Regions from separate parts of the Homo sapiens genome. Here region 1 is linked to region 2. Evidence: fine-mapped expression QTL. A gene starts in region 2. The other region holds a variant in brackets. All regions are shown on one strand. Distances are between the middles of the regions. Region 1 overlaps UNC45B (unc-45 myosin chaperone B). Region 2 holds the start of UNC45B (unc-45 myosin chaperone B).

What was found. PIP is the estimated chance that this variant, and not a neighbour inherited with it, causes the effect.
Region 1: its variant is fine-mapped to the expression of UNC45B in blood mononuclear cells (TOPMed, PIP above 0.99).

The regions. Positions count from the first base shown.
Region 1 is chr17:35,168,254-35,173,625 of GRCh38, forward strand. It overlaps UNC45B (unc-45 myosin chaperone B), which reads left to right. Exons shown (of 20, transcript NM_001267052.2): 10 at 1-108; 11 at 1,584-1,678; 12 at 1,861-2,002; 13 at 3,069-3,209. Among named protein-coding and RNA genes, the nearest start is that of UNC45B, 23 kb to the left of the region's middle. The variant A/C (reference allele first, on the strand shown) is at 3,370.
Region 2 is chr17:35,145,804-35,151,175 of GRCh38, forward strand. It overlaps UNC45B (unc-45 myosin chaperone B), which reads left to right and starts at 2,014. Exons shown (of 20, transcript NM_001267052.2): 1 at 2,014-2,107; 2 at 2,461-2,628; 3 at 3,170-3,206; 4 at 4,245-4,420. The coding sequence starts at 2,461. RefSeq lists an enhancer at 5,267-5,372.

The sequences.
Region 1 (5,372 bases), 22 kb after region 2:
TCCACGAAGCTCAGCCGCGCCACCTTCATCATCACCAATGGAGTGTCACTGCTCAAACAGATCTACAAGACCACCAAAAATGAGAAGATCAAGATCCGCACACTGGTGGTGAGTGGGCTCGGTACCACCCTCCTACTCAGTACAAGGTGCCATGCCAGGCACCAGGGACACCAAAATGAATGAGTTGAGGCTGCTGTCCTTGAGGAGACCAGGTTCAAGGGGGCACCAGACCCAGCCACAGACCCCTGCAGAACAGGGCAATATCCAGGGGGCTTGTGAGGATGTAGATTCAGAACCGTGAACTCTGCTGCTTAACCCTGAGGACGTTCGTCTCCCTGCTTATGAACAACATGAACACTGAGGAGCTTGTGTCCAGAATGCATTTTCAGAGCAAATTCTGAAGAGTCACTTTCCTTAATCAGTTTCTATAAGGTATTTTTTTTCCACTTTCATTTTACTTTTTGTTTTTTTGAGATGGAGTCTCACTCTGTCACCTAGGCTGGAGTGTAGCAGCGAAATCTCAGCTCACTGCAACCTCCGCCTCCCAGGTTCAGGTGACTCTTGTGCCTCAGCCCCCAGAGTAGCTGGAATTACAGACGTGTGCCACCACACTCAGCTAATTTTTGTATTTTTAATAGAGACGGGGTTTCGCCATGTTGGCCAGGCTGGTCCTGAACTCCTGACCTCAGGTGATCCACCCCCCTGGGCCTCCCAAAGTGCTGGGATTACAGGCGTGAGCCACTGTGCCTGGCCTGAAATTATTATTATTATTATTTTTTCAGACAGAGTCTCCCTCTGTAGCCCAGGCTGGAGTCCAGTGGCATGATATTGGCTCACTGCAACCCCCATGATCTCGGCTTACTGCAACCACCGCCTCCTGGGTTCAAACGATTCTCCTGCCTCAGCCTCCCAAGTAGCTGGGATTACAGATGCCTGCCACCACACCCTGCTAATTTTTGTATTTTTAGTAGAGATGGGGTTTTACCACGTTGGCCAGGCTGGTCTCAAACTCCTGGCCTAACTGATCCACCCGCCTCGGCCTTCCAAAGTGCTGGGAGGATTACAGGCGTGAGCCACCGCACCCAGCATCAATTTTTTAAAAACAAATTCTAGCTTCTGACAAAAGTGAATTTTCTCTTATGAAACCGCCCCCCTAAGAAAAGTCCAATTTTCTCTGGGTAAAATTTTGCACATCTGAATCTGTTATCCAGAAGATAGGATTTCTCTGTCAGTTTCTGTGCCGTAACAAGGTTCCCCATTGAAGCTTCAGATATGGTTAACTTGGTCTTGCTGGTTTTTCAAAATGGCAGGCACAATACATCTGTGGGGTCAAAATGGTGGGGGAAGGGGGCAGGTCAAGAATTTGCAACTTTATGGGCCTCTACCCTAACCCAGAGCATCAGGGAAAGTATCTCAGCAGAGGTGACACCTGAGCTGAGTTTTACAGTCTGCACAGAGGTGGATCCAAGCAAAGAAAGAGGGGCGAAGTGTTCTGGCCATAGAAACCTGTTTGAGCAAGGCTTCATCCCCAAGCCTTGGTGTCTCTGATCCTGCATGTGTCTGCTGTCTCCTCTCCTCCTCAGGGACTCTGTAAGCTCGGCTCTGCAGGTGGCACAGACTACGGTCTCAGGCAGTTTGCGGAAGGGTCGACAGAAAAACTGGCCAAACAGTGTCGCAAGTAAGGGGGCTGTGTTTCCCAGGCCCTCCATCTCCTCATGCGCCTTCCGGGCAAGAGTCTCTGGGGTGTGCTCTAGTGGAGTGTGAAAGGGACCTCACCCCTGGTTCACCACCCTGAAATCGCTTCACCCTCTTGACCTAGCCCTGGGCCCCTTCCCATGTGTGCTCCCTCCTCACTTCCAGGTGGCTGTGCAATATGTCCATAGACACTCGGACCCGACGCTGGGCAGTGGAGGGCCTGGCCTACCTCACGCTGGACGCTGATGTGAAGGACGACTTTGTCCAGGACGTCCCTGCCCTGCAGGCCATGTTTGAGCTGGCCAAGGCAGGTGTCGGGGAGTCTGGCCCGACCACAAACCTCAGGAAAGGTCTGCTGGGTCCAGACCCACAGGGAATGGATCCCAGTCTTCCTCCTGGCTCTACTCCTTACCCCTGTATAAACATGATTGGTTATTTCCCCCTTTCTGGCCCTCATTTTACCTGATTGTAAAATGGACTCCCGACTCCCAATGCCTTCCAGAGATGGGAAGATGCACAGGAGGGCAGTTTGTTTTCCTGGGGCCCTCAGGAGGTGAGGTCTTGAAGGACCTGAGGCAGCTAAAAAAAAAAAAAAAAAAAAAAAAAGCAGGGCATCGTAGCACGTGCCTGTAATTCCAGCACTTCAGGAGGCTGAGGCGGGCGGATGGCTTGAGCTCTGGGGTTCAGGACCAGCCTAGGCAACATGGTGAAACCCCAACTCTACAAAAAATACAAAAATTAGCTGGGCGTGGTGGCACATACCTGTAATCCCAGCTACTCGGGAGGCTGAGGTGGGAGGATTGCTTGAGCCTTGGGAGATCGAGGCTGCAGTGAGCTAGAATTCCAGCTCTGCACTCCAGCCTGGGTGACAGAGAGAGACCTTGCCTCAAGAAAATAAATAAATAAAAGAGGCTGTGCCTGGCCTTTCTGGGAACCTGCCCTCCCTCCCAGGCCCCCCCAGACTCCTTTCCTCATCTGCTGGGCCAACTCCCTGGCCCTTTTCTACCAGTAAATGGAGGAAGCATGGGAGAGATTTTCACCAGGACCGGAAAATGTCCAGCTCCCACCCCATCTCCAGTTGGATGGGAAAGTGTTAGACTGGGCTTGTGGAAGAGGCGCAAAGCGAGGATCTTTGTGGGACAGCTCCTATTCATACTGTCAGAGCTACTGTGGAGGGTGCAGGAGACACTGCTGCCTGCCTTTATGGGGAGAACCGTTCCTCTCCTGCGCTGCTGTCTTTCCTCAGAATGGGCCCTACCAGCTGCACTCCTCCGACACCAACCTGCCGGCCACGTGAGGGAGCATCCTGGAAGCAGAGGTTTGTCCTAAAGTTTCCTTTCTGCTTTCCCTCTCCCCAACCCTGTGCCTTCCAGACCAGTGACAAGACCATCCTGTACTCGGTGGCCACCACCCTGGTGAACTGCACCAACAGCTACGATGTCAAGGAGGTCATCCCAGAGCTTGTCCAGCTCGCCAAGTTCTCCAAGCAGCATGTGCCCGAGGAACACCCCAAGGTAGGGTCAGGCGCGACCCGGGAGGGGTCTGGTCTGTGCCACTAGGCCTCCAAAGGAGGCGGAACGGCAAAAGGAGTGGTGTCAGGAGTGGCACGGTGTGTGTTTGGGTGGTTGGGGGTAAGATACACATACATTGAATATGTTAATGGTAAACTTTCCC[A/C]CCAGATGGTGCTCATGCTTTTTCTTTGTTTTTATTTTCTATTTTGAAAAAAATCCAACAATTTATAGTCTGAGAAAACAAACAGAGCCATGATGGACACTTTGCAATTTGTGTTGTTGATTTTATGGATAAAAGACAGTTTTATTTCATGTCTCCAACAGATAACAATTTGATTTTCTCAGATTTCTGGATTTTGTGACATGGGTGCTAAGTAGGAATCATGAGAGGAGAGGCATGGTCAGCATTAGCCCAGAAGTCACAGATCCCCTGGAACCCTCTCCAACAATTCCCTGCACATGAAGATATGATTTGTGTGTGATTTGTTTAAGAATATATGCAAGATATTGCCAGCCAATAAAATCATTTAGATTTTTTTAATGATCAAAGTAATATAATCATGCTGCAAAACGAGTTAAAATGTGGGGAAAAGAAAATAACCACTCATGATTACGTCATCTCCACATGACTGCTGTTGGCATTTTGATGTTATGTTACCTACCAGAGGCTTTTTTTCTATGTATCTTTTTTCCTTTCACAGTTATAATTAGAATATATTTATCATTTTGTGCCCAATTTTGGAAAAATATGTTTTTCACATTGCCATCTCATTCTCTGAATCATTTTTATTTTATTTATTTATTTTTTGAGACAGAGTCTTGCTCTGTCACCCAGGCTGGAGTGCAGTGGTGAGATCTCGGCTCAATGCAACCTCTGCCTCCCAGGTTCAAGTGATTCTCCTGCCTCAGTCTCTCAAGTAGCTGGAATTCCAGGCATGCACCACCATGCCCGGCTAATTTTGTGTTTTCAGTAGAAACAGGGTTTCACCATATTGGTCAGGCTGGTCTCAAACTCCTGACCTCAAGTGACCCACCCACCTCGGCCTCCTAAAGCGTTGGGAATCCAGGCATGAGCCACCACACCTGGCCTCTGAATCATTTTTGAAAGCTGCATGATGTTTCATCCAGGCAAGGGTGCAGAGCATGTGCTGTGGCTGTGAAGTTCCAGTGTGGCTTCCAGGGCTTGCCCAGGGTTGTCAGCCCCTTCCCCACCACTCCTCACTCTGAGGATTATCTGTAGGGACTCTTTAACCCTGGGTTGACTTTGGGTTTCCAGCAAACCCAATCCATTGTTATGGCGGCTTCATCCACTGTGTCCTTTCCTGCCTATACCCTCTCTCTACCTCCACTCCCACCTCAGCCTTCTCCAAGAAAAACAATATACGCATCATTTAGTCTTTTGGATTATCCGTCTTTTATTTCATTCCTCTGTGAATGAGAGAATCTTTGGGACTGGTTTTCTACGGTATCAGCTCCTCAGGCTCTGTCTTGGGATTAGGTAAGGCAAGGAAGAAGAGAGGAGAGACAATCACACACGACAGCAAGGCGTGCTGTATACCCCTTGGCAGTTGCTTGGGAAGAGGGAATCTGGAGAAGTGTCTTAGTTTCCTATTGTTTCTAGAACACATTGCCACACGCACTGTGGCCTAAAACGCAATTTTTATACTTTTTTTTTTTTTTTTTTTGAGACTGAGTCTCCCTCTGTCGCCCAGGCGGAGTGCAGTGGTGCAATCTTGGCTCACTGCAACCTCCGCCTCTTGGGCTCAAGCAATTCTCCTGCTTCAGCCTCCTGAGTAGCTGGGATTATAGACACGCTCCACCATGCCCAGCTAATTTTTGTATTTTTAGTAGAGACGGGGTTTCGCCATGTTGCCCAGGCTGGTCTCGAACTCCTGGGCTCAAGTGGTCCACCCACCTCAGCCTCCCAAAGTGCTGGAATTACAGGCGGGAGCCACCACGCCTGGCCCGGTTTTAAAAATCTTATAGTTCTGGAGGTCAAGAGTCCTAAAATGAGTCTCACTCGGCTAAAGTCAAGGTGTTAGCAGGGCTGGTTTCTTTGGGAGGCTCTAAGGGAGAATCATTTTGTTGCCTTTTTCAGCTTCTAGAGGCCACCTACATGCTTTGGCTGGTGACCTTGAACCACTCTGACCTCACTTCCATTCCATT
Region 2 (5,372 bases):
ATGTGAGGGAACAACATAGACACAAATCCTTGTCCTCACCAGTGTTCTATGCTTCACAGTTCCTCACACATAATAAATGTTTAAGAAATGTGGGCCAGGCGCGGTGGCTCACGCCTGTAATCCCAGCACTTTGAGAGGCCTAGGCAGGTGGATCACGAGGTCAGGGGTTCAAGATCAGCCTGGCCAACATGGTGAAACTCCATCTCTACTAAAAATACAGAAATTAGCCAGGCATGGTGGTGGATGTCTGTAATCCCAGCTACTCATGAGGCTGAGGCAGGAGAATCTCTTGAACCCAGAAGGTGGAGGTTGCAGTGAGCCGAGATCGTGCCACTGCACTCCAGCCTGGGCAACAGAGCAAGACTCTGTCTCAAACAACAACAACAACAACAACAAAAAGATGTTTAAGAAATGCTTGTGGAATGAATTACTGAATCAGCATTTGAATATAAGATCCCTTGGACCTAAAGTCACAGAACCGCAGGTCTCTGCCAATGTCAGGATCCTTTATCCTATTACCTCATTGCTGCAGAGAGCTTGCCCCACAAAAGGGCCCAGGGCTTGTGATAACATGAAGGCAGGGAATTCATCCATCTATTCATTCATTTATTTGCTCATTCAACAAACATGTGTTAGGGCTGGGCTTTGTGTCCAGCAGGGCGCTACAACTTGTCCAAGGTCATATAGCTGTGTGTCCAAGGTCACAGGTCTGCGAGTAGAATCTAGTATGAATGATTCCACCTGGGATTTTCTTCAGTGTCTTTCTCAGCTCTGGCCAGATAAGTTTGAAGATATGTGTGGGGTGGAGGGGAGAGGGATGAGAGGTGAGTGGAGGAAATCATCATCATGAAGACACCATTCATTCATTCATTCATTCATCCATCCATTCATTCCATTCAGGAAACACACTTCGGACACTGAATGTGCCAGAACCTGTGCAGGAAGGGGGTTGGGGGACAAGCTATATGGGATGCTGTCTTTGCCTTCCAGGAGGAAGCTCACAGCCCAGGCTTGAGGGCACTGAAATGCAGAAGAGTTCTGGGTCCAACTGGGGACAACGTCATAAATTTGCTTCAGGAACTCCCAGTTAGCTAAGGAGAAACATTCCTGCCTCAGGAGAGACCCCTCTGCAATGGTGAATACATAGTTCTTGTCCCAGGAAGACCCCCTTCTGAGGAGGGAGCCTCAGTGTGTCCCAGGATAGTTTCCAGTCGGGTGGGGAGGACCCTTGGTCTCGGGGGAATTCCCAGTCTGACCCAGCCCTTGCCCTAAGAGATCTCAGCCTGATGGGGGATACACAAAGCCCACTCTCTGGGAGCTAACAGTCAGATGGGAGAGGTAGGCTGAATAGATCCACTCTATACACAGGGGGAGGAACAGGAGACCGCATGTGGACCGAAACTAACGAACCACTCACTCACACTAAACTGAGTTAGCAAGTCCTGTTGGTCTTTCTGAAAAGCAAAGACATTTTGAACAGGTGAAAGCAGGGTGGGTTGAGGTGTTGCGCAGAAGTGGAAAAGGGAAGGAACTTTCTTCCCCTGTTCCTTCCCCGCTCCCTCCAGAAAGGTATTTCTGGAACTCTCCAGTTGGTCTGGGATCTGGGCAACTGCTGTGTGTCCCAGTCTGTCAGCCCCTCAGCTGTCACTCTGCTCCCAAAAATAGCAATGGTTGAGGGGAGGGAGAGGAAGCTGTTTATCTGGGATAGATGTGGAGAGGTGCATTAGAGCTGTGCCCAGGGAGGGAGTCTGCTGGGGGGTTCCTGTCCCTTCTGGATCTTTCTGTCACTCTTTGGAATGTTAGTGCCTAAGCCCCCCACCAGGATAACCCAGAGTGGGGTGCTTGGGCGGAGGCTGGTCAGCACCTCCACGTGGTCATGACTGACCAGTCTGGGGAGGGGGAGGGCCCTGAGTATCAGTGACAGACTCCAGGGGCACCTGCCCCTGTGGCCAAATATGGTCCAGAGCCACTGGCTGAGGCAAGAAAATCTCTTGGGTGGGGGCTGGGAGGGGCAGACTGAGGCTGGCTGGCTGGAGGTTGACACAGGAGTGCTCAGGGGAGCAGCATCACAAGAGGGCAGATCGAAAGCATCGTCCTTGCTGAAAAAGTGAGCATGGGCCTGGGGTGTGCCCTGGACTGGGGAGGGAGACGGCAAACTTCTAAGACCTGCAATGAGAGTTCAGGCCTTTGGCACAAACTAAGCAGCTTCGCCTGCTCAGGCTGGGAGGGACAGAGAGTGAGGCACAGGGACTCTCAACTTGGGCCAAGCTCTGAGCAAATGCTATAATGTCCTCATGGGGCAATAGATTTGGGGGTTCTGGGGGTGGGTCCCTTCCAGGCAGAATCCCCACCATCCTCTCTGGTGTGAGGGGACCCTGGAGCTCCGGACCTCAGGCCAGGAGCCCAGCCCTGGGTCTGCAGTGAGGGGCTGACCAGACAGAGCTTCTCCTGTCCCAGCAGATGGCAGAGGTGGAAGCGGTACAGCTGAAGGAGGAAGGAAACCGGCATTTCCAGCTCCAGGACTACAAGGCCGCCACAAATAGCTACAGCCAGGCCCTGAAGCTGACCAAGGACAAGGCCCTGCTGGCCACGCTTTATCGGAACCGGGCAGCCTGTGGCCTGAAAACGGTCTGGGGCAGGGCAGGGCACAGGGTGGGAGTGAGGCAGAGGGGCTTTGGGGCTGAGTGGCAGCCCCTTCACCCTGATAGAAATTGCCCTTCATCCCAGCCGACTCTCCTGGATGCCTGGGGTTGGAGAAGGGTGCCTCCAACCCCCTGACCCATGCCCCGGAAAGACAGAAATTCATCCAGAGCAGAATCAGCCCAATGCCAGGTGCTTTCATGTGTTATTCATGGCATCTTACTAATGGCCCGTGAGATAGCTGTTGTTGTCCTCCCCCTATCGCAGGTAAGAAACTCGGGATCCAGAGGGCTTCATTCATTAACTTGCCCAAGCTCTCCCAAGTAGTAGCAGAGCCGAGATTCAAACCTGGGTTTGCCTGATGTCAAAGCCTGTCCTCTTTGCCATGCCTGTGAGGAGCATGCCCTGGGCCTCTGACAGCCTGCAGCTCCCCCAGGAAACCCTCTCCCCACACTGTGGGGACACTCTCTGGCCATCTCTGCATTGGGCCCACATTAACCGAGTCTCCTTCTCCTTCCCCTTTCCTCAGGAGAGCTACGTCCAGGCAGCTTCAGATGCCTCCAGAGGTGAGCCCCTCCCACCTCCAAGCTTGCCCTGTCACATTCTCCTCTGCATGGCCTGGGTTTTAATCTAGTTACCATTTTGGGGGAAGAAACAGTGAGTATGGAGTGACTTCAGAAGGGAGAGAACAAGCTGGAGAAGGGACTGGAAACATATCCTGTGAAGAGCAGTTGAGGGAAGCTGCAATATTTAGCCCAGAAAAGGCAACTCCCAGGTGGGTCAGAGAGCTGCCTTCAAATTCCTAAAAGGCTGTCACAAGGAAGAAGGATTGGATTTCATCTCAAGGGTTCCAGGGCTGGGCAATGTTACAGGGAACACATTTCAGGCAGGGAGAGGGAAATGTTTTCTGATTAAGCTGCCTGGCTGTCTTTTGTTGTTGTTGTTGTTTGTTTTGTTTTGTTTTTTGGGTTTTGTTTTGTTTTGTTTTTTTGAGATGGAGTCTTGCTCTGTTGCCCAGACTGGAGTGCAATGGCATGATCTCAACTCACTGCAACCTCTGCCTCCCGGATTCAAGCAATTCTCCTGTCTCAGCCTTCCAAGTAGCCGGGATTATAGGCGTCTGCCACCACGCCCAGCTAATTTTTGTATTTTTAGTAGAGACAAGGTTTCGCCATGTTGGCCAGGCTGGTCTCGAACTCCTGACCTTGTGATCTGCCTACCTTGGCCTCCCAAAGTGTTGGGATTACAGGCATCAGCCACTGCGCCAGGCCCGCCTGGCTGTCTTGAGGAGGAGGGAGCTCCCCACTGCTGGAGGTATGCAAGCACCGATTGGTTAAGCCCCTGGCAGGGATCCTGTAGCAGAGACTGGAGCGTTAAGAATTGGATGACATGACCCCCAAGCTCTCTTCCCACCTTGAAACTCTGTGGATCTTACTGTCTCCCTAACAAAGGGGAGGTAAGGGCCAGAGAGTCCACATGGATGGATAATCTCCAAGGAAGACACAGAAACGAAGCAAGAGCATGCTTCCTGGAGTTGGGGCAGTGGGGCTGGTGGTCTGTAGTCTGGCTCCCTAAGGTCCTCATCCCCCGTCTCCCCTCGATAGCCATCGACATCAACTCCTCGGACATCAAGGCTCTGTATCGGCGATGCCAGGCACTGGAGCACCTGGGGAAGCTGGACCAGGCCTTCAAAGACGTGCAGCGTTGTGCCACCCTCGAGCCACGGAACCAGAACTTCCAGGAGATGCTGAGGAGACTCAACACCAGCATTCAGGAGAAGGTGAGCTGGGCCTCTTCCCACAACCCTTGGCTGCCCAGCCCCTCTCTTCATTCCTAGTAGGAATGGGTTAGGGAGGTGGGTCATCAGGGCAGGGCTAGCCCTACCTCCACACTCTGAGATAGAGACAGCAAGTGGCATGGGCAGGCTGCACAGAACAGCTAAGCAGGTGCTTCTATCTGTGATGCTTGTTTGAGGGCACAAGCCAGCCAAGGCTAGAACACAGGTCTTTTAAATTCCAGATGGGGCCAGGCACAGTGGCTCATGCTTATAATCCCAATACTTTGGGAGGCTGAGGCGGGCAGATCACTTGAGGTCAAGTAGTTTGAGACCAGCCTGGACAACATGGGGAAACCCCGTCTCTACTAAAAATACAAAAAATAGCCGGATGTGGTGGGGGCGCCTGTAATCCCAGCTACTCAAGAGGCTGAGGCAGGATAATTGTTTGAACCTGGGAGGTGGAGGTTGCAGTGAGCTGAGATCATGTGCCATTGCACTTCAGCCTGGGCGACAGAGCAAGACTCTGTCTCTCCCACCCCCGCCCCCCCCAAAAAAATTCCAGATGGAGGCTTAGAAATATTATTATAACTTAGTATGTCTGCAACATGATCTCTCTCTCTTTCTATGTATTATAAAATACATGGGAATTGAAGACATCGATGAGGGATAGAGGAGAGCCAGGCCCCATTAGGAGCATGATTGCTTTTTTTGAGACAGATTCTTGCTTTGTTGCCCAGGCTGGAGTACAGTGGCATGATCTCAGCTCCTCACTCCAACCTCTTTCTCCTGGGTTTAAGCAATTCTTGTGCCTCAGCCTCCCAAGTACCTAGGATTACAGACGTGCACCACCACACCTGGCTAATTTTTGTATTTTTCCGTACGCCACATTTCCCGCGCCCCACCGCGGGGCGGGGATTCGGCGCTGGGCTCTTCCCTGTTCACTCGCCATTACTGA